3 linked regions of the Homo sapiens genome follow. The protein of the gene in region 1 purifies or fractionates together with the protein of each later gene. This does not show direct contact. Each region holds a gene or a part of one and is shown in the gene's direction. Other genes may lie near its edges.

Evidence for each region.
Region 2: the proteins of ACADM (region 1) and ATP5F1C fractionate together in Homo sapiens (co-fractionation; one large-scale study listed by BioGRID). This does not show direct contact.
Region 3: the proteins of ACADM (region 1) and ALDH9A1 fractionate together in Homo sapiens (co-fractionation; one large-scale study listed by BioGRID). This does not show direct contact.

The regions. Positions count from the first base shown.
Region 1 is NC_000001.11:75,738,012-75,741,744, forward strand, and holds part of ACADM (medium-chain specific acyl-CoA dehydrogenase, mitochondrial isoform a precursor), read left to right. Parts: intron 1-1,968; coding exon 1,969-2,099; intron 2,100-3,733. UniProt on the Homo sapiens protein: Medium-chain specific acyl-CoA dehydrogenase is one of the acyl-CoA dehydrogenases that catalyze the first step of mitochondrial fatty acid beta-oxidation, an aerobic process breaking down fatty acids into acetyl-CoA and allowing the production of energy from fats.
Region 2 is NC_000010.11:7,794,677-7,798,176, forward strand, and holds part of ATP5F1C (ATP synthase F(1) complex subunit gamma, mitochondrial isoform L (liver) precursor), read left to right. Parts: intron 1-1,444; coding exon 1,445-1,479; intron 1,480-2,370; coding exon 2,371-2,502; intron 2,503-3,500.
Region 3 is NC_000001.11:165,691,920-165,695,652, reverse strand, and holds part of ALDH9A1 (4-trimethylaminobutyraldehyde dehydrogenase isoform 1 precursor), read left to right. Parts: intron 1-255; coding exon 256-401; intron 402-3,733. UniProt on the Homo sapiens protein: Converts gamma-trimethylaminobutyraldehyde into gamma-butyrobetaine with high efficiency (in vitro). Can catalyze the irreversible oxidation of a broad range of aldehydes to the corresponding acids in an NAD-dependent reaction, but with low efficiency.

The DNA.
Region 1 (3,733 bases):
GTTCAAGCGATTCTCCTGCCTCAGCCTCCCAAGCAGCTGGGACTACAGGTGCGTGCCACCACGCCTGCCTAATTTTTTGTATGTTTAGTAGAGACAAGATTTCACTGTGTTAGCCAGGATGGTCTCTATCTCCTGACCTCATGATCTGCCCACCTTGGCCTCCCAATGTGCTGGAATTACAGGTGTGAGCCACCATGCCCAGCCAAGTATTGTTATTATTTTTTTTTTCTGAAATGGAGTCTCGCTCTGTTGCCTAGGCTGGAGTGCAGTGGCACCATCTCGGCTCACTGCAACCTCCACCTCCCAGGTTCAAGCAATTCTTCCTCAGCCTCCCAAGTAGCTGGGATTACAGGCGCCCGCCACCAAGCCTGGCTAAGTTTTTGTATTTTTAGTAGAGACAGGGTTTCACCATGTTGGCCAGGCTGGTCTCGAACTCCTAACCTCAGGTGACCCACCTGCCTCGGCCTCCCAAAGTGCTGGGATTACAAACCTGAAGCCTCAGCCACCACGCCCGGCCCTAAGTAATCATTTCTAGTGCCCCTATATATGCTTACTACTTTGAATTAAAATGTATATAGTTTCTTTCTTTTTTGTTGTATATTTTTAAAAAATAAATTGACATGGGTTCTCGGCATGTTGACCAGGCTGGTCTTGAACTCCTGGTCTCAAGCGATCCTCCCATCTCAGCCTCACAAAATGCTAGGATTACAGGTGGGGGGCCACCATGCTCGGCCCAGTTTCTTTCTTCTTTGGACTGTAAGTACCTTAAGGGCAAGTAACTTGTTTCTTTAGTATCCACAGTACCGGCCACTCTTGAATTAACTTGCACTAACACTTGCCTTCTACCACCCCCTTTTATCCATTACTGCTTGTGTCTTGTCACTCCTCTGTTTAAGAGCTCTAAGAGGCTCCCCTGTTTCTACCAGATAAAATTTTAAATTTGTAATGTGATATAAAAGATTCTCGTCGACCATTTCCTTCCTTTCTTTCCAGACTCATGTCTTACCATTCCCTTACATGCACAGAATTTACATACTGTGGAACTCTGGTACTTTCAGCATTAGAAACACTGGGTAACTCTGTTTCTTATCTTAGTGTCATAGCATATGCCATTACTTGTACCTGGAATGCATATTCTTCCTCTTTTTCCCTCCTCGCAAAGAAGCCATTTTCCTTTTTGAGACTTAATTTAAACATCCTCTGCCCTGGGAAACTAGTTTCTCAAGCCCCTTGTCTGACTTTCACACATAGAGTTGCAGTATAGTTATTTATCTTCACTGTTACATTGTGAAAATCTCTAGGACTGAATGTCTTTTACCTCTGGTTTCCCCATATCCTAATTTACATCGTGGTACATAGTAGATATTCAATACATGTTTGCATGAATGAATACATGTGAAATTGAATTTAATGAACTTGTTTAAAGCTATCTAACATTTTCACTTTTTATTAAATATATGATTTGTTGATATACCTATGCCTAATTTGAATTATATATTAAGTGTTTTTAGGCCAGGCACTGTGGCTCATACCTGTAGTCCCAGCACTTTGGGAGGCTGAGGCAGAGGATTGCCTGAGCCCAGGAGGTTGAGACCAGCCTAGGCAACACAGTGAGATGCCATGTCTACAAAAAATTTAAAATTAGCTGGGCATGGTGATGTGTGCTTGCAGTCTCAGCTATTATACACGGGAGGCTGAGGCGGGAGGATTTCCTGAGTCCAGGAAGCCAAGACTGCATTGAGCCTCTGCATTCCAGCCTGGGCAAGAGAGTGAGACCCTGTCTCTTACAAACAAAACAGAAAAGTTTTTACATTTGAGTGGTTTCTTTGATTTTGTAAGAACATTTTAATTTTAGATATTTAAAAATATTTAAAATACAGCTTAAAAAATAAAACAATCCTGTTTCCAAACAGTCAAAATTTAATCACTAACATTTAATTTCATTTCTCTTGTTTTTATATATTCAAGGCTTATTGTGTAACAGAACCTGGAGCAGGCTCTGATGTAGCTGGTATAAAGACCAAAGCAGAAAAGAAAGGAGATGAGTATATTATTAATGGTCAGAAGATGTGGATAACCAACGGAGGAAAAGCTAATTGGTATGTTGTTCAAAACATCTTTGTATATTTTTTCTTAATTGTTTTATCTTCAAATCTCTCTTTCTTTCTGTATATTTTTAAACCACTACAGTTAAGGTATGTTTGTGGAACTGGAAGGCCTAAAGGAGATTATAAACAGTTCAGTGATTTTCAAAAACTAATTTTAAGCCCCTGCACTGTTTTTTCAAATTAACTCTCAGAAGTTTAATGTGTAAAATAAAATACAAATGCGTGCTCTGTTTGAATCTGATTAGGAAGGCTAGCACTCTGTCTACTTGGCTTATTATCTCCACTCCTCATCTCCTATACCAGCCGCTCCTTGGAATCCCTAAAACCCTAAGGAAAAAGGAGAACCTTTGGTATAGTGCCTGTCTCCAGATGTCAGAAATAAACAGAGTCAGTCTTAAAACAGGTTATCTATTAGAGAAGACAGAATTTGACTTTAATAAAATCTGAAATTTTCTAATATATGGTCAAAAAATATGAAGTTCAACAAAGGATCAAAAATAATTTGTATAAATATAAAATACTAAAAAAAAACACTCGATTATTTGTTGATAAAAGATGAGGAAAGTTCAATAACTGTTAAGTTCAATAAGAATCAATAGTATGAGCCTTTAAAAAGCCAATGTAATTTTAAGCCAAAGTAATAGAAGTACAGCATCAAATAGAGAAAAAATGGTGACAGTTCTGGGCAACACATTTTAAAACATGTATTGAAAAACTTGACTAAATCTAGAAGCATGTAAGTATCTTGCATTAGGAGGAGCCTACAAAACATGTTCTGAAAAGCAAAGCCTTGGTTATTTTGGAAGAATCTTGAAGTTTTTCAAATATTATTACACAGAAAGATGATCAGGCTTATATGTTTACTTCAGGATGCCAGCTTAGAATTAATGAGTGAAAGTTAGAAAAATGTAGAATTTAGCTTAACATAAGGACAGGCTTTCTATCAGCAGTGCTGTTAAGTTGTCATGGGAAATACTGTATTTACCCATCACTACAAGTATATAGAGAGTTTCTAGAATAACTTTTTATTGATTGGAATAATGTACTAAATGACCTGTCTCTCTTTGTAAAAAATTCAGATTCAATATATTTGTGTGCCATATACTACAGTTTTCTAGCAAATAAAACATCATTTTTTTTCAGAGTGAGCCTACTAAAAAGTTACTTAGATTAAACATATCAGTCAATTCCTTATGAGCATCCTAAATATATTCAGTATTATGGAGTGCTATATCTTTACCTTTAACCAATTCCTGGTAATATCAGCAACTAATAAAAAGTGAAGAAACTATTAAAATTTAACAAGTTGAGAGAAATCTAACAATGCAGTTTGAAGTTTTCGTAATTTTAAAAACGGATTAGCCAGGTGCAATCACTCACGTCTACAATCCCAGCAGTTTTGGAGGCTGAGGCAGGAGGATTGCTTGAGCCCAGGGGTTCAAGACCAGCTTGGGCAACATAACGAGACCCCATCTTTACAAAATTAAAACAAAAAGAAAGAACTGATTACAACTGTTCACTGTTCATATAGTAAGGCAAATTAGGTAATATATGAAACCAGATAACAATTTTTACGATTTTGTTACTATTATTAAATAAAACTATAGAATGAGTGGTAATGTATT
Region 2 (3,500 bases), on another chromosome or scaffold:
AGCTTTGCATACCTGGAGTAAATCCCACGTAGTGATGGTGTATAATTATTTTTAATACATTGTTGGATTTGATTTGCTAATACACTGTTGAGGATTTTTGCCTCTAACCTATGCTCATGAGAGATATTAGTCACTGTCCACCAAGGTCATTCAATTAGAGAAACCTTAGATCATTCTTACTGCTTTCCTTTCTACTACGAATGTACATGTGAAGAAGTTAAATGCTTGCAAATCTAGTCTCCTATTGCTTTGCCAGCATCTTCATCCAGGTTCTTGAGGTCTCTCCTGAGGCTGTGGCAGCCTACATCCCCATGTCTTCTGTGTTCATCAAAACTCCAACCTCATTTTACGCTTGTCACTGCCATGTGAGATACTTTGCTGAAATACTAAACTGATTTGTGGGCTTATAAACATTCATTTCCCTATTAACCTACAAATAAGATTTAAACCAATTTGCTTTTTTTGATATTTAAAAATATTAATTATTTAAAGTAACAAACCCAACTCATGTGTCCAGTTTCCCCTTCTCCATTTCTCACTCTTTCCTGATCATGAATGCTCTTAAAATGACATTCTGTTCCCGAGAATCCCCTCCTCACATCTCTACTTTGTGCACACATTTCATCATGCTCAGTTCTCCTGTGTAGCTTTGCCTGCAAACACAGGCACTTTGTATGGATTTGAAGGCAGAAAGATCATCTAATATTTTTTAGCATGTCTTCCCCCATTAGGCCAGGAATTCTCTCATATTCATCTTTCACCAACATTTCATTTAAGCCTAATCATTTTGACTTCTGCACATTAGCATTTCAATTTTAAAGACTTGAAAAAAAATACTAAATGTTATGTAAATGTAATTTTTTATGAACCTTGTTTACAAGGTAACAATATGTCAGAGACCATGTCGTGTTTACCAGTGCCTGGAATTTAGAGCATCTTGGTAAATGTTTATTGAGCTAAATTGAAAAAGTTAAGAATCAGTTTATATAAACTACTTTTACACGTGTAGTCATGTTCGACTATATCATTGACTCTGTTACTGGAAGAGGTTGCTGTGAACTAAGGAAATTTTTAGAGTGGCTGGCCTTGATTCGAAGTATAGTTGGGCAGCTTAACAAGGGGAGGGGCTTTTCTGTCATGGAAACAAGATAAGCAAAGATATGGAGGTGGGACTAGAGCATGTGTGAGTCAATAGAGCATGTTGACTTCTGGGAAGGTGGTGGTACAGACAGGCCAAATAAAAGGAGGCCTTCAATACAGGGATTTGCGCCACTACTAAGGGATTTAAATATATGTCTATTCATATACATTCTGAGTCCTGTATTTGATAGATTGTTTCTTTATGGGGTATTCTTTAAATAAATATATATTAACTGAAAGTTTTTCTTGTATAATGGAACTATTTTTCAAAAAACTGAAACATTTTTAAAACTTTTATCCTCAGGATTCAAGTTCGAAATATGGCAACTTTGAAAGATAGTAAGTATGTTGTTTGTCTCAATATGTGAATTGAGAAAAACTAAATTTTGACAAATACAAATACTTTCAAAAATATACTGCTTTAGCCCATTGTGTATTTGATCAAAACTGACCAAATGGATTTCCATTGTATGTTTGGGACATTGGACTTGTTCTGAAAAGACCAGTAAGAAAGGACACCTGAGACAGCTATGTTCTGTTGTTTGTAGAATGATCATGATATAACTAGAAAAAATTATACCAGTGTTGGTGTAGGTGGGTGTATGTGTGGGAAGGGGTAAATCATGTTATATATAAATAATGTTATGGAATATGTGGTTAAGGCAACTTTCAATACCATTTAATGTTTTAAATGTATATTATTGTCTTATGTTGCCATTTGCTTGTCCTAAGTAGTAGCTAGTTTTGCCTTCCTTTTATTAGTACTATTTCTATTTTTTTTTTTTGGAGATGGAGCCTCATTCTATCACCCAGGCTGGAGTGCAGTGGCGCCATCTCGGCTCACTGCAAGCTCCGCCTCCCGGGTTCACGCCGTTCTCCTGCCTCAGCCTCCCGAGTAGCTGGGACTACAGGCGCCCGCCACCACGCTCGGCTAATTTTTTGTATTTTTAGTGGAGACGGGGTTTCACCGTGTTAGCCAAGATGGTCTTGATCTCCTGACCTCGTGATCCGCCCACCTCAGCCTCCCAAAGTGCTGGGATTACAGGCGTGAGCCACCGTGCCCGGCTATTAGTACTAGTTCTAATATTAAGACTGGTTTAGCATCGTGCTGTTTATTGTTTATCTAAGCGCTCATTATTCTGCCTTGCACTTCAGAAAAATATGTCAATAAATTCACAAGGAAGTTATACTGTAATTCCTTTGTCTTAACACAGTACTTCTATTTTTCAGTCACCAGGAGACTAAAGTCCATCAAAAACATCCAGAAAATTACCAAGTCTATGAAAATGGTAGCGGCAGCAAAATATGCCCGAGCTGAGAGAGAGCTGAAACCAGCTCGAATATATGGATTGGGATCTTTAGGTAAGGGAAGAGTGTAATTCACAAATTAGGAAGAACTGTTTCACACAAGGAAGACTACTGATGACTTACATTTAGAGCTTACAGTGATGTCAAGCCTATCTGAGCACTTGCCATGTACTTATTTTTCATCTACATCCACTTGACACGTAATGATAACAACCCGTGTAGGTAGTACAGGTAGGGACTGTTAGAATCCCTGCTTTCCAGTGAGAAAAACTGAAGCACACAGAAGTTAAGTAACTTGCCTAAGATCACATATAAAAGGATGAAGAGCCTCTGTTTGGACCTATGTGGTTTGGTGTCGAGTCTGTGTATTTGTTAGCCATTATACGTGACCATGTTAACTTTTAAAATATTCTGAAATGTTCCCAGTTGTTAAGTATACCATCAGAAGAACTTGGAAACCGTGCGTTAGATGTAAGGGCTTAATTTCATCCTATGACCTTGTAGTGTGGCATTTTAGGACTGCAGCGGGGGCGGGTGAGGGGCAGTGCAGTGGAGAGCTGGCCTTGTGGTCATGGATATGACTCATGATGGTGTTTTGAGAATCCGAACGATGTTGAAGCAGGAAAAGCAGCTGAGAACCTCCATTTTCAAGATACTTAATCACCATTCTTATCTTTTCAAAAGCATGAAGACATTTTTCCTTCAGAAATTTATGTAATCCATCCTTAATTAGTCTTCTTAATGGAAAAGAGATGAGATATGACAGTTTAAAAAGAATTTATATTGTGTTTTTAGATGCTTTTATACTTGTTTGATTATGAATTCATCTTGGAAATAAAGTTGTAAAGAGCTGGAAATGGGAAAGAAGTTTCTATTTTAACTTGTAATTACATTCTTTCTCTTAACTTTTTTATGATCATGCTGTCTTATCCTGAGTTGAGGCTATCTAAAAGAATTTTTAACTTAAGGAAGATTTATGCATATTTGATAGTAAAGAAGATCATGCAGTGAACCCCCTATTTATCTACCAAATCCTCAGTATCTCAACTGAC
Region 3 (3,733 bases), about 90 Mb from region 1:
GTAGTGGCGTGCACTGGTAGTCCCAGCTACTCAGGAGGCTGAGGCAGGGGAATCGCTTGAACTCAGGAGGCAGAGGTTGCAGTGAGCCGAGATCGCGCCACTGCACTCCAGCCTGGGTGACAGAGCAAGACTCCATCTCAAGAAAAAAAAAAAAAAAAAAAAAAAGACTACTACTAAGAGAATATTGATAGATAATATTTTATTTAAATATGTGGCAACAATTTGAGTTAAAACTGATGTTTCCGCTCTTTATAGGCCGAGTGATAGCTACTTTCACATGTTCAGGAGAAAAGGAAGTAAATTTGGCTGTTCAAAATGCAAAGGCTGCTTTTAAAATATGGAGTCAAAAATCTGGCATGGAGCGTTGCCGAATCCTTTTGGAGGCTGCCAGGATAATAAGGGTATGTTCCAATTTATTTCCTTCCAGAACTCAGACATTGCTCTGAGGTTTCTTTGTGATGTTTGCAGTTCGACTTTGTTGCAACATTAGGCCGTAACGTTTTTATAAAATGGAAAAACATTTCCACATGCTCACCTTAGTATATAAAACAAGTTTTTGTTCAATACTTCCCATCTGGATGTTGGCTCTTGGACATCTCCTTTGGCAGGTTTTCATGTTTGTAAAGCTTTGTTTTGAATTATAATGCACTCTTTATAGCTCATCGTCCTTTTTTTATTTTTATTTTTTTTTTTTTTTGAGACGGAATCTTGCTCTGTCGCCCAGGCTGGAGTGCAGTGGAGTGATCTCGGCTCACTGCAACCTTCGCCTCCCGGGCTCAAGCAATTCTCCTGCCTCAGCTTCCCAAGTAGCTGGGACTACAGGTGTGTGCCACCATGCCTGGCTAATTTTTGTATTTTTCGTAGAGATGGATTTCACCATGTTGGCCAGGCTGGTCTTGAACTCCTGACCTCAAGTGATCCACCCACATCGGCCTCACAAAATGCTGGGATTACAGGCGTGAGCCACTGTGCCCAGCCTTTCTTTCTTTTTAAACCATGTGGTTTACTTGTTTCCTTTTTATTCTTTATTTTGATGATTCTCAAGTCTACCTTTCTTTTTCAGATTTGTTTTCAGATAGGGTTTTAAGTATCGTTACTTTAATTGGGAAGATTTCATAGATTTGTAGATGTTCCCTTTAAAAAAAAGAGAGTTAAACTTTTTTTTTACATCATAAATATATACAATTTTTATTTGTCAACTAAAAAAAATTGTAAAAACAAGTATTTAATACTCATCGCAAAACATAAAAAGCCTGCAATGCAAAGGGTTTCTGTGGTGTAGTAGTTACCACGCTGGCCTAACACACGGAAGGTCCTCTGTTTGAAACTTGACGGAAACAAAAGGTTTCTTTTGTTTCCCAGAATCTGACCAGGCTGCCTCTTCCTGGGAGTCCAGAGCTGCGAGGAACAAGTGATAATCCTGCCTCCTTTTTTTTTTTTTTTTATACTTAAGTTCTAGGGTACATGTACACAATGTGCAGGTTTGATACATAGGTATACAAGTGCCATGTTGGTTTGCTGCACCCATCAACTCACCATTTACATTAGGTATTTCTCCTAATGCTATCCCTCCCCCAGCCCCCCACCCCCTACGGCCCCGGTGTGTGATGTTCCCCACCCTGTGTCCAAGTGATCTCATTGTTCAATTCCCACCTATGAATGAGAACATGCAGTGTTTGGTTTTCTGTCCTTGTGATAGTTTGCTCAGAATGATGGTTTCCAGCTTCATCCATGTCCCTGCAAAGGACATGAACTCATCCTTTTTAATGGCTGCATAGTATTCCATGGTATATATGTGCCACATTTTCTTAATCCAGTCTATCATTGATGGGCATTTGGGTTGGTTCCAAGTCTTTGCTCTTGTGAATAGTGCTGCAATAAACATACGTGTGCATGTGTCTTTATAGTAGCATGATTTATAATCCTTTGAGTATATACCCAGTAATGGGATGGCTGGGTCAAATGGTATTTCTAGTTCTAGATATTTGAGGAATCGCCACACTGTCTTCCACAATGGTTGAACTAGTTTACAGTCCCACCAACAGTGTAAAAGTGTTCCTATTTCTCCACATCATCTCCAGCACCTGTTGTTTCCTGACTTTTTAATGATTGCCATTCTAACTGGTGTGAGATGGTATCTCATTGTGGGTTTGATTTGCATTTCTCTGATGGCCAGTGATGATGAGCATTTTTTCATGTGTCTTTTGGCTGCATAAATGTCTTTTTTTGAGAAGTGTCTGTTCATATCCTTTGCCCACTTGTTGATGGGGTTGTTTGTTTTTTCTTGTAAATTTGTTTAAGTTCATTGTAGATTCTGGATATTAACCCTCTGTCAGATGGGTAGATTACAAAAATTTTCTCCCATTCTGTAGGTTGCCTGTTCACTCTGATGGTAGTTTCTTTTGCTGTGCAGAAGCTCTTTAGTTTACTTAGATCCCATTTGTCTATTTTGGCTTTTGTTGCCATTGCTTTTGGTGTTTTAGTCATGAAGTCCTTGCCCATGCCTGTGTCCTGAATGGTATTGCCTAGGTTTTCTTCTAGGGTTTTTATGGTTTTAGGTCTAACATTTAAGTCTTTAATCCATCTTGAATTAATTTTTGTATAAGGTGTAAGGAAGGGATCCAGTTTCAGCTTTCTACATATGGCTAGCCAGTTTTCCCAGCACCATTTATTAAATAGGGAATCCTTTCCTCATTTCTTGTTTTTCTCAGGTTTGTCAAAGATCAGATGGTTGTAGATGTGTGGTATTATTTCTGAGGGCTCCGTTCTGTTCCATTGTTCTATATCTCTGTTTTGGTACCAGTACCATGCTGTTTTGGTTACTGTAGCCTTGTAGTATAGTTTGAAGTCAGGTAGCATGATGCCTCCAGCTGTGTTCTTTTGGCTTAGGATTGTCTTGGCAATGCAGGCTCTTTTTTGGTTCCATATGAACTTTAAAATAGTTTTTTCCAATTCTGTGAAGAAAGTCATTGGTAGCTTGATGGGGATGGCATTAAATCTATAAATTACCTTGGGCAGTATGGCCATTTTTGCGATATTGATTCTTCCTATCCATGAGCATGGAATGTTCTTTCATTTGTTTGTGTCCTCTTTTATTTCATTGAGCAGTGGTTTGTAGTTCTCCTTGAAGAGGTCCTTCACATCCCTTGTAAGTTGGATTCCTGGGTATTTTATTCTCTTTGAAGCAATTGTGAATGGGAGTTCACTCATGATTTGGCTCTGTGTTTGTCTGTTATTGGTGTATAGGAATGCTTGTGATTTTTGCACATTGATTTTGTATCTTGAGACTTTGCTGAAGTAGCTTATCACCTTAAGGAGATTTTGGGCTGAGACAATGGGGTTTTCTAAATATACAATCATGTCATCTGCAAACAGGGACAATTTGACTTCCTCCTAATTGAATACACTTTATTTTTTTCTCCTGCCTGATTGCCTTGGCCAGAACTTCCAACACTATGTTGAATAGGAGTGGTGAGAGAGGGCATTCATGTCTTGTGCCAGTTTTCAAAGGGAATGCTTCCAGTTTTTGCCCATTCAGTATGATATTGGCTGTGGGTTTGTCATAAATAGCTCTTATTATTTTGAGATATGTCCCATCAATACCTAGTATATTGAGAGTTTTTAGCATGAAGGGCTGTTGAAATTTGTCGAAGGCCTTTTCTGCGTCTGTTGAGATAGTCGTGGTTTTTGTCTTTGGTTCTGTTTATATGATGGATTACGTTTATTGATTTGT